Homo sapiens: one gene and its partner. The protein of the gene in region 1 interacts with the protein of each later gene in a pairwise test. Each region holds a gene or a part of one and is shown on either strand. Other genes may lie near its edges.

What was found. The genes of interacting proteins can lie anywhere in the genome.
Region 2: the proteins of MINPP1 (region 1) and SOX4 interact in a two-hybrid assay, tested with the Homo sapiens proteins (one study listed by BioGRID).

Annotation. Positions count from the first base shown.
Region 1 is NC_000010.11:87,549,765-87,553,969, reverse strand, and holds the end of MINPP1 (multiple inositol polyphosphate phosphatase 1 isoform 1 precursor), read right to left. Parts: intron 1,889-4,205; coding exon 1,492-1,888; 3' UTR 509-1,491; downstream 1-508. UniProt on the Homo sapiens protein: Multiple inositol polyphosphate phosphatase that hydrolyzes 1D-myo-inositol 1,3,4,5,6-pentakisphosphate (InsP5[2OH]) and 1D-myo-inositol hexakisphosphate (InsP6) to a range of less phosphorylated inositol phosphates.
Region 2 is NC_000006.12:21,589,554-21,596,750, reverse strand, and holds the start of SOX4 (transcription factor SOX-4), read right to left. Parts: upstream 3,001-7,197; 5' UTR 2,217-3,000; coding exon 792-2,216; 3' UTR 1-791. UniProt on the Homo sapiens protein: Transcriptional activator that binds with high affinity to the T-cell enhancer motif 5'-AACAAAG-3' motif. Required for IL17A-producing Vgamma2-positive gamma-delta T-cell maturation and development, via binding to regulator loci of RORC to modulate expression.

The DNA of each region.
Region 1 (4,205 bases):
AAATTTCTATTCAAAGAAAATTGCTTTAAATTGCCAGGTGACAATAGCAAAGACTTGGAACCAACCCAAATGTCCATCAATGATAGACTGGATTAAGAAAATGTGGCACATATACACCATGGAATACTATGCAGCCATAAAAAACGATGAGTTCATGTCCTTTGTAGGGACATGGATGAAGCTGGAAACCATCATTCTCAGCAAACTATCGCAAGAACAAAAAACCAAACACCGCATGTTTTCACTCATAGGTGGGAACTGAACAATGAGAACACTTGGACACAGGAAGGGGAACATCACACATTGGGGCCTGTCGTGGGGTAGGGGGAGGGAGGAGGAATAGCATTAGGAGATATACCTAATGTAAATGACAAGTTAATGGGTGCAACATACCAACATGGTGCATGTATACATATGTAACAAAACTGCATGTTGTGCACATGTACCCTAGAACTTAAAAGTATAACAAAAATAAAAAATAAAAAAAAATTGCCAGGTGAGTCAAATCTGCTTGAATTTCCAAACTTTTACCATCAATTATTGATTGTATTTTGACATGGGGAAGAGAAAAGTCCTGGTAGTAAAGTCACAAGAATTTTCTTTATTATAGCAAATACTTTCACGGCATTTGACAGAACTCAGAACTATTTACAAAGAAAGAAAGAAAAATCAAACAACCAAAAGATACATTTCATATAATAGGAAAATATAAAAATCGAAGCCAAGTGACAGAATGAAAAAGTTAGCTAAGCAATGGATTTGAAAAACTTCGATTCTAACTATCTGACTTGTTGCTAATTGTCCAAACATATAATAATTTAAGATGGTCTTTTGAGACTTCCTAGAAGTAAAAAGGAATTATTGAAAAAATGTTCAAATATTTCATAAATAAATACCAAAAATATTTATTTTCATTGTACTTTCCGACTTGCTTCAGTGAAGGTGTCCTTTTACAACACTCTGTTTCTTGTTTCAAATTCTCATCTGGAGATGTTACTTTCTTCCAGAGTGATACTCCCAGCTTACCACAATATTCCTGATTAAGAAAATGCTAGAGCTGTCCTACCTGAGGAAAAGAAGAGAGAACTGCAGAACAATCTGTAAAGTTCCTAGACAGTTCAATCAAGTTAAGGATGGTCCAACTGAGATATTTTGTTACTCCAGCACTTTTCAAGTGTTATTATGAAATCACAATTCTATCTCAGTGTGAGATTTCTTATATAAGTAGGAAGAATTTCATTTCTGTAAACATTTGCAGGGCCAGCTGTTTCTCTAAATAGATTTGTTTCTCCTTAAGAGAGCTGCTCCAGTGAAAAATCTTTTCTTACATTTCATGTCCAAACCCAGAGAGAAACCCAATGTTTTTCTGTGAAAAGACAGAAATACTCAAGTAATATAAAAGCTTCCTGTAATCAAGGAATTGCCTACCTATTACAAGCATGTAATCACTCATTGCAGATTCCTAAAGAATTAAAAATGTTCTTCAGTTACTCATAGTTCATCAGATGTACTGTTAGCCCTTGCTAATTCACATTCTTCACTGGTTTGACAACTCTGAAGGATGTCCTTGTAGTGGTTCTTCAGATCTTCATAAAATGAAACAGTTTCTTGTGAGTAAGCCAAAGGTAACACCTTTTCATTTAATAACATCTGCACTCGGAATTGTTCTTTAGGAGTCTTAGCATTTTCACAGTGGTAAAGCACAAATATCAGGTTCGAGGCATAAGGTACAATGAGACCACTTCGGAACTTCCGATGCATTTGTTTTTTGTAATTGTACGCTGTTAGGGGTTCCTTGTCTTTGAAGTAGCCCATGAGAGAAAGCAGTGGAAGAAGAGTCTCTGCATGACCAAACTGGAGGATGACTGGAGAAGAAATTGGCTGAGACCTTCAAATAGAAATTAAGAGAAAATAAGGTATATATATTAATGTCATAGAACATAGTATTTACACTTAGGAGTAACTTCCACATCTTTTTTTAGTTTAAATAATCCCATCTATTTTTTTAAATCTTTATATACATTACACAAGCATACGGCTGAAATTCCGTGTGGCAGAGAACTAAACTTTTTATACTGAAAGTTAAGTTCCGAAATTCAGATCACTGTACTGTTGTAAATCCATATAAGTGTGCATACATATTTTCCTTTAAGTTTAAAGAGAGAGAAGTGTCTTATAGATATGGGAACTTGAAACAGATGTGTATTTCAACACTGTATTGCCTTTCTGTGCATAAAACTGAGCAACCTGGCCCTTAGTAAATATTACTCCATGGAGCTCTTTTGAATAAAGTGTTATTATTTTATTTATATCTAGGGAATAAGAACAAGCAATATTCAGTAAATGTCTTACCAAGTCTGAACAGGATTACATGGTAATTCATGTAATCCTTAATGGTTTACAAAACCCAAAAAAGGTTAGTGATGTAACCTATTGTGGCTGAAACAATGTGTCTCTGGTTGGGAGTGGGAGTATAAAGTGCCAGGAATACAAACCACTTTCAACACTGAGCTGAATCAATTCTTTTTCTTGAAGTTTTCTATGATTTTTTTTTTCTGGTAAAGAATTTTTATTAAGAAGCAGTGAATGACTGCTTAGCCTTTTCCCTACCTTTATAGAAAAAATAATATTTTTCTTAAATATAATTTGTAAACCTATTCAAACATGACTGTCTGACTTTTTGCCACCACTCATCAGGTTATCAATTTAGTGCATCTGGATTTTCTGGGAGGATAGAAGCAGCAGTTCTAGACCTTCCTGATTCCCTCTGCCCCCAACACACACAAACACAGCAAGCAGATAGCAAATCCAAAAACCCATGGGAAACATTTACAACATAACTAGGTGGAAAAGTATTCTCTATGAACCACTCCAAGTAGCATCCAACCTCAAGCACTAGATATTATCAGTATCTGTTGAAGAAAGCAGAGAGAAGCCACAGAGCATCTGAGCAATCTGAGAACAAGAGAATCCCAAACAGCCCACAGGTATTCACTGGAAGCGCTGTGTGTGAACTGGATATAGCAGCTGAAATTGGGAAGTATTTAGTCCTCTCCAGGACTTGGTGAGTGCAAGGCAGGCCTACAGTGAGGCCCGGGGCTAGAGAATCCTGGAGCTCCTGTGAACTCTCCAAACACAGGGCTCACACTAGAGAAACTGCTGGGAGTGGAATTTCAGCCAAGCAGGAGAGGGACAGAAGAGATAAAGGAAAAAGTAAGTCTAGATGAAAGTGGGGGGAGGGGAACAGAGCCAGGAAATCTCAGAAAACAACCCATCATACTTCTGAACAGTACACACACCAGAACGGGGGGGCTCTGTGAGATGAGACAAGCAATCTGACACAAACCTTTTTCTAAATGTTCAGGAAAACAATTCATATCAAAATAACTACAGAAAAGCATGTAAGAAAAAATAAGGAGCAGAATAACTTCCATATATAAGAGTACGCTAGAAATATATACTCAAAAAGTACACTGAAACTGTTAACAGTATTTCAAAACAAACTAAAAGACAATTATTCACTACTTTCAGATTAATATTCTCTAAAAGGTGTAAAACTTAAAAGCCATTCATCAACAGGCGCTTACCAAGCCTCTCTTCATAACTGGTATACTTTAATTAGGTCATCTAAAATACCTAAAACCTGTATTTATTTCCAAGAAGCAATCTCTTAGGTCTGAAGTTACCAAGCGGTAGCATTCAGAACACAGCCATATTTAGTTTGACCAGCATAAGTATTTTTAAATTTTACATTACTTATCAGTATTTAAAAATTGAGAGGTTTAAGATTCTTAAAAATCCAGATTTTTGCTCTTCTTAGAAATCTGAAAGATCTGGCAACACAAGTCCATATATACCCGTAAGACCATAATCAGCTAAACAGGAATAAGGTTACCCACCCTGTAGAGAGGGCATATACTTGTTACACAGCACATGTATCATTCCACATTGTCTAACATAGGATGAATTCATTCCTTTGTTACTTGCCTGGCCCCTTTATACATCTGAGTATATTCAAGTCTAAACTAACACTACTGTCACCATCTAAATAATGAAATTTAATAAGGATACAAGTTAAAAGAAAAACAAGTAATATAAATATACTGGTTTACATTTTAAATCCTTTAGCCATTAGGCAGAAACCTCAAAGCCAGAAGCAATCCTAAATTCAACTTTCAGTTATTGCTCTCCATGGAATCTATTAG
Region 2 (7,197 bases), on another chromosome or scaffold:
CGCCCCTAGCTCCCGCTGCTGCGCTTCCAACGGGGTTCTCGGGTCATTTCCTAGCGCCGGTCACACTGGCTGGCCTCCTCCCCTCAACATCTCCTCCTCCGGCTGCAGAGGGGGCAAGGGGAAAAGAGGGAGGAAAAAAAAGCCCCAAACGGGAATTCGCCTGCGTGGAGTCTCTCAGTCCCGGCGTTCCCCCAAAACATCTGCCATCGGCCAAATTCGTCACCCCGGAGCCTTCTGTCTTCATCACGCGTTTAAAAAAAGGGGGGGAGGGGTGCGCTGGGTTCTCCCCTCCTTTCTTGACCAAGAAGCAAAATAAAACAAAACCAAGGTGGTGATGCAGGAAGGGGGAGACTCCTTCAAGTCTCTAGAAAACTAACTCGCCTTCTTGCTGGGGGTGCAGACAAGTCCGGAAGCTCGTTGGAAGGGGGAGGGGGTCTCTTCAAGCAAAGGGGAGCAAACTCGAAGTCGCTTTTTTTTTTTTGCCATCAACAACAACATCAATAACAACAATCACAGGTCGCCCCTGTCTACCCTCTTCCTCCTCCGCGTCCCTCCGGCTGGGCAGAGTGGGTCCCCGGCCCGGGAAGGTGGGGGATGGGAGCGCGGGTCCAAAACGCCGCCGCGCTCCTTGATCCGACGACGAGAACGCGGGCGAAGCCAGCCCTGCTTACTTTTTCTTTCTTTTTTCCCTTTTCTCTTTAAACTCTTCGTCTGTCCTTTTCGTTTCTTTTTTTCACTTTTTTTTTCTCCTCTCCTACCCCCCCCGGCCCTTCTCCCTGCCTGCGCGCCCTTCAGTAGGTGAAAACCAGGTTGGAGATGCTGGACTCGAGCCAGTCTCCCGAGATCATCTCGCTCACCTCGGGCGTGCAGTAGTCCGGGAACTCGAAGTGCGAGCCGGAGCCGGGCTCGAAGTTAAAATCCAGGTCCCGGTCGAGCGCCGACGACGAACTGAAGCTGCCCAGGGACATGCTCTCAAAGTTTGAGCTGGGGTTCAGGTCGAGCAGGTCGTCTTCGAACTCGTCGTCGGAGGACGAGGAGCCCGAGGAGGAGGAAGAGGAGGAGTGGGACGAGGCCGAGGAGGACGCGTGCGAGGGCGCGCTGGACGGGGCGGGCGAGGCGGCGCGCAGGCTGGCGTAGCCGCGGTGGTCGGCGGGCGAGCGGCCGGCGGCGGGGGACGAGGCGGCGCTGCTGCGGCCGCTCAGGCTGGGCGCGTCGGGCGAGCAGCCCGCGCCCTCCTCCTCGTACAGGCCCAGGGGGTCGCTGGGGTCGGCTCCCGCGCCCACGCCGCCCACGGGCGACGACGACGTGCCCAGGCCGCCGAACAGGTAGACGCGCTTCACCTTCTTCTCCGCCAGGTGCTTGCCCGGGGCCGCGAGCGCTGCGGAGGCCGAGGCTGCCGAGGAGGCGGAGGCCGAGGCGCTGGGAGTCCGCGCCTTGTACAGCGAGTGGTGGTCGGCGGCGGCGCCCAGGGGCAGCAGGGCGGCGGCCCCCGCCTGTTCGGCGGCGAAGGAGGCGGCGGCGGCAGCCGCTGCTTTCCCGCCGCCGCCGCCGCCTGCCAGGATGAGCTTGGCGTGCGGTTTGCTAACCCCACCGCCCGCGCCGCCCGCCACTTTGGAGCCGCAGCTCTTTTTCTGCGCCGGTTTGGAGTTGGCGCCGCCGCCACTCGCACCGCCGCCTCCTCCCCCCGCGTTGCTGCTCCCGCCGCCGCCGCCGCCCCCATGGCCGCCCCCGCCACTGCCACCGACCTTGTCTCCCTTCTCCCCCGGCTTGGAGGAGGCGGCGGCCGAGGAGCTGGAGTTGGCGTTGCCGGACTTCACCTTCTTCCTGGGCCGGTACTTGTAGTCGGGGTAGTCAGCCATGTGCTTGAGGCGCAGCCGCTCCGCCTCTCGAATGAAAGGGATCTTGTCGCTGTCTTTGAGCAGCTTCCAGCGTTTGCCCAGCCGCTTGGAGATCTCGGCGTTGTGCATGTCGGGCGACTGCTCCATGATCTTGCGCCGCTCGATCTGCGACCACACCATGAAGGCGTTCATGGGTCGCTTGATGTGCCCACTCGGGGTCTTGCACCAGCTCGGGTCGTCGGCCTTGCCGCCCGTGGAGGCGGTGGAGCCGGGCGTGGGGGAGGAGGCGATTCCCAGCTCGAGGCCGGCGCCCGAGTCCGAGCTCTCGCCGGCCAGCAGCGCTTCCGTGTTCTCGGCATTGTTGGTTTGCTGCACCATGGCCTCGGCTCGGCGGGCGCCCACGCGCGCTCACACCCTCGCGGCGGCCGCCGCGCGATCGCCGGGCCCTCCCGGTTCCCCGGGCCAAGCACACGCCGAACGGGAAGACGCGCGCGGCGGCCGAACTGGCCCCTCAACTCCTCGCAGGGGCGGAGGTGGGTAAAGAGAGAAAAGTCCCCAAAAGATTTGGGGAAGGAGTTCTCCGCCTCTCGCAGAGGAGTTATAGTTCCCAGGCTGGAGAGTCTCTCTCTCCCTCTCTCTCGCTCTCTCACCGCGCTGCAGTTTGCTGTCTCTCGGCTGAGTCTGGAGACCGTGCTAAAGTAGAGAGGAGTTTCTCGAATGCTGGTTGCTGAAGCTTCCAATGCAAGTTTCTCGCGGCCTCCCAGGCAAGTCTTTTTTTTTTTTTTTTCTTTTTCCCTGAAGCAGTTGATTCCAGTTCACGAGCGCTCTCGGTAGCTCAGGAAAGCGACATAGTCTCTAGCACTTAGTCCCTCTCCTACAATGCAAAGCAAAAAAGACTGTGGCTCCAGGACTCTCTGTGGGCGGAATCGGCACTAAGGAGTTGGTGCAATTATTTTGTTGCAAGGTAGGAAGCCAAAAAGCCTGCATGCAACAGACTGGCATGAATAAATGTATGTTTCCCCCTCCCTTCTGCAAGAAGGGAGCTGGTAATGGCAGGAGTTCCTCCAGTGCAGACTCTTAAAGAGCGTGCAAGAACTAGAGACCCGACAGCGAAACAGGCCTCTTCCCCTCACACACAGTTTCTCTTGCTGCAGCTTAGAGCAGACCCCAATTCCGCCTCGCGCCTCTTTATCCTTTCACAGTCTTGGCTGCAGCCAATCAGCTGCTGTAACCAACGCTTCCTCATGCCAAACCCCTCCCCCGGGCTTCCCATTGGCTTGGAACCCGATGCAATAATAATCTCCGCGTGCAATGAGAAGCTCCAAATCTGACCTCATTCCAATTTACAGAGCAAACTTTTTAAAAGGGCTAGAAGTACAGCTGAGATTTCTGCTGCCTCTTTTTTCCTTTTGCTGTGTGTGTGCGCGCGCGTGTGTGTGCGCGCGTGCGTGTGTGTATAGTGTGTGAAGAGGATGTTAATGCATGAAATTATTAAGGGGAGAGACGGAAATGTATTCTAACCATTATGTTAGATAACAAGGGGCTTGGAACGGGGCGGGGTAAGGGTGAAATACTGTAAATGGAAGCTTTCTGCTTAAAAGCCAAGTGATTATTTTTATTAGTTCTTTTCAGCATTGGAATAAAGAATCAGCCTCTGGTGCAAAATCTGTTCCCCAGCTCTTTCTTAAAGCCAAAGCTGTAAAGGGGAAGAGAAAGCCACAAAACAATAAATCAATGGATATTGAAAACCATTAAGAAAGTGGTACCTAGACACCTGTCATCACAATTATTTTAACAACTCTAGGTACAGCACAGATGTTGATGTATTGTGTAAATCCCTTCAGAACCGTTTTTGTGCTGTTTGTGGAAGGCAGGGAAGAGGACTTTGCAATAATTGCTTACTCTCTTAACCAAGCAAGGGTCAACTATGGTTATTTAATGATTTAAACTCCCTGTAAATCCTGCATAGCCCAAACAGGGGAGCTTTCCCTTGAAACACATTAGGTAGTGCTCCGTAATTACCTCAATAGGCAGATTTCCAGAGTTTTGTATAGGATGTATAATGGCATGTAAAGGATGGAAATCGGTTTTACTTTCTAAATATTTGTTTTCCCTGTTTTCAAAATTAAAGATTGCTTCACTCTCTTCCCTCTCCTCCTCCCAAAGCCATCTTCCTCCTTTCCTTCTTATATATTTCCTCTTGTTACTTGAATCGAAGGGAACTGAAAAACCAAGGCAAAGAGAAACTGTAGAAGGAGGTGATAACTGGTAGCAGAAGAGAATGGGGCCTCCGGATTCATAGTAGACCTGGCTGCTAATCCTTCTTAATGGTTTGTAACTATGGGGATGTGGCCAAGTCTCAGTTTTCCTCATCTATTATATGGGAACACTAGGAGCTACTTTATAGAGGGTTGTTGTGAGGGTTCAATGAATTTGTGACTATGAAGCACCTGATGTATTGTAAGCCCTCAATGAATACTAATATCTTCCTTTCTAATTCAAATGCCAGACACACTCCTAGTAAAAGCTGCATGTTGTTCAAGAGGCTAAAACAGAATAGCCACTTATGTAAAAAAGTAATAACAGGCAGGACGCGGTGGCTCACGCCTGTAATCCCAGCACTTTGGGAGGCTAAGGTGGGTGGATCACTTCAGGTCAGGAGTTCGAGACCAGCCTGGTCAACATGGTGAAACCCTGTCTCTACTAAAAATTAAAAAATTAAAAAATTAGCTGGGCAGGGATGCATGCGCCTGTAATTCCAGCTACTCGAGAAGCTAAGGCGGGAGAATTGCTTGAACCCAGGAGGTTGCAGTGAGCTAAGATTGAGCCACTGCACTCCAGTGTGGGTGATAGCGTGTGACTATCTCAAAAAAAAAAAAAAAGTAATCACAGATCATTGATGTGAACCATAGAAGGACAATAGTGGCAACCCTGCCATTCCATTGATTTTAAAAGAAAGGAACTCCATGAAGAATACTAAGAAGAATGTGGCAAAGAAAGGATGCCAAGGTATTCAAAATAAACGTTGGCTACAGAAATTACTTGTTTTCCAGTGTCTGAAAATTAGAATTGTAGTAAAAATCAGCTTTCCTTAACACTATAATAGGAAACTAATATTCTTCAGGCTAACCATAAGTGGTTAGGTAAAGTCAATCCAAAATAATTAAGTCGGCTTTTGATTCAGATTAAACTAGTGCTGGGTAGTAAATTTCTATGTATCTTGTCAAACTTTTAAAGTATGTAGGCTGGCAATAGGCCCAGGTTGTCAGACTTAGAATTTTACTGGAAAGAACACCCTATGTAGCCATCTGACTGGATCTGTAAGGATCAACCACAAGCAAAACTGTTTTTGTGGGTAAAAGCAAATAATTTTTGACGATTAGCTACTTGTATTACATAATTTTTTTAAAAAAGGAGAAACAAATCCTTAAAAAAAGAAAAACCCAAACCAAAAACACACAGGCACCTTTTTTGCATAACAGTGTTGCTGTGTTATATACTACATTTTCTCTGGTGTGCATAGAAACACATCCTTAAATGTTACCAATCTGACAAAAAAAAATTATTTTAAGAGGGCTATTATCTATAAGATCAATATTTTCACTAGAATAAAAAAGAATATTTATTTTTGAATTTGTACTAACTAATGATTTGAGGGTGTAGCTAGTTTGATAATTCAGTCAAGTTGAGTATCAACATTATTGATTATATTTCTCAGTCATTTATGCTTCCATCATCGAATATGATAGGGAAGAGTGGAAGTTAAAGCAGTCATATATGTTTCTGCTTAAAACACATGGATTTTTTAAAGGGTGTACTAAAACACAGCCACTGGCCTCATTCTTTTGTTACATGTATTTTCTGTATTTCAACAAATCCAACAAATTTTAAGACACACCATTATATTACATTCCACCAAGGAAGAAAGCTGCCAATGAAACTGTGATATCCCCCTAGATGTAGGATGCCTCCTTATTTCAGGAAGAGTTGAAATGAAAAGAAAAATTTCCTCTTAGACTTGATGAAATATGGTATCAGTAACTTCCATTGACTTTATAATTACTGCATATATATTTATATATTACACAAGTGCCTAGACTTCTGAAATAGATCTGTTCTAATGGGTTAGTTCTCTTAGAATGTAAGAAAACATATGACGAATGCCCTTTTATTAAAGTCATCTTTGTGACCAACTAAGTGTGTGCACACTGGAATGTGTTGGACCTCTCAATACCAAATAATGAGAAAAGATTTCTCCCTTCTCATTCCCTAACTTCATATGCTCTGTAATCAGTTCTCCATTACTGACATTTTTTTCCCCAAATACCAGATATTTGGTGGCCCCTACTAAATCAGTACGCAGTGTTCCCTCTGCTGGCTTTGCAGTACATGAAGTAATTCTTAATGCTAGTCTTTTAGCTGTATTAAGAGAAAGCCAAGATAATTTTGCAGAAAAAAAAAATCCTGGTTTAGAATAATAAACTGTCTTTGTTAGCAATGATGTTAGACATTTCCAATTTTGAATTAGGTATTTTATTTTATTCCCTTAAATGATGGAATTCCATTTGAGATGTAAGTGTAATATCTGCTAATGCATTTCTTCTGCTCTCACACATCTACACAACATAAAATCTCACATCCATACAATGGTATGGGGCATAGATGAAATAAGATTCTATTCCACTGCTTAATATATTCCTTTGGCATGGAGGGAGGGACCTGAATGGAAATTAGTTTAACAAATCTGGATTTGCACTGATTTGCAAGATTTTGCCTTGCCTTGGTTATAGAAACTATGATTGTAGGCGCTAGTCAGACCTGACAAGTATTCAGTTCAAATAAAATAAAGAGGAGGAAAAACTGTGTAGTTGTTACTTTACCTGACAAGGAAGAAGCCCTGGGAAATCTGATGTCATTGGCCTTTGTCAACTGAAAGGCGCCAGTTTTTTTGGTTCCACACTTTATGGAAAAGAAGCCTCCATGTGAGGCTGATTTACTTCTCAGTCAAGTAGACAAACATAACTTGCACTTCATCCTTTTGGGCTGATGACATTGCATTGTAACTGGGCTCAGCGCGTAATGGGGGTGGGGGTGCGTGCATTGAAAAATAATATATGGAAATAACTCATATTTGCAAAATATCAAAATAGGATTCTGGGGTAAATGAAACCTAGCATTTATTTTTATCACTAGAATAAGCTAAGAGTTAAGAAACCTGCATTTCTAACAATTGTACCATTTTCCTCTCATAACCAGTGACTAGCACACAGTAGGCTTAAGCTGTTCATGCCAATGCCAACTCATTATTCCTTTCCTTCGATTTTCTCAAGAAAACAAGCAGAAGACGAATGTTTGCAGG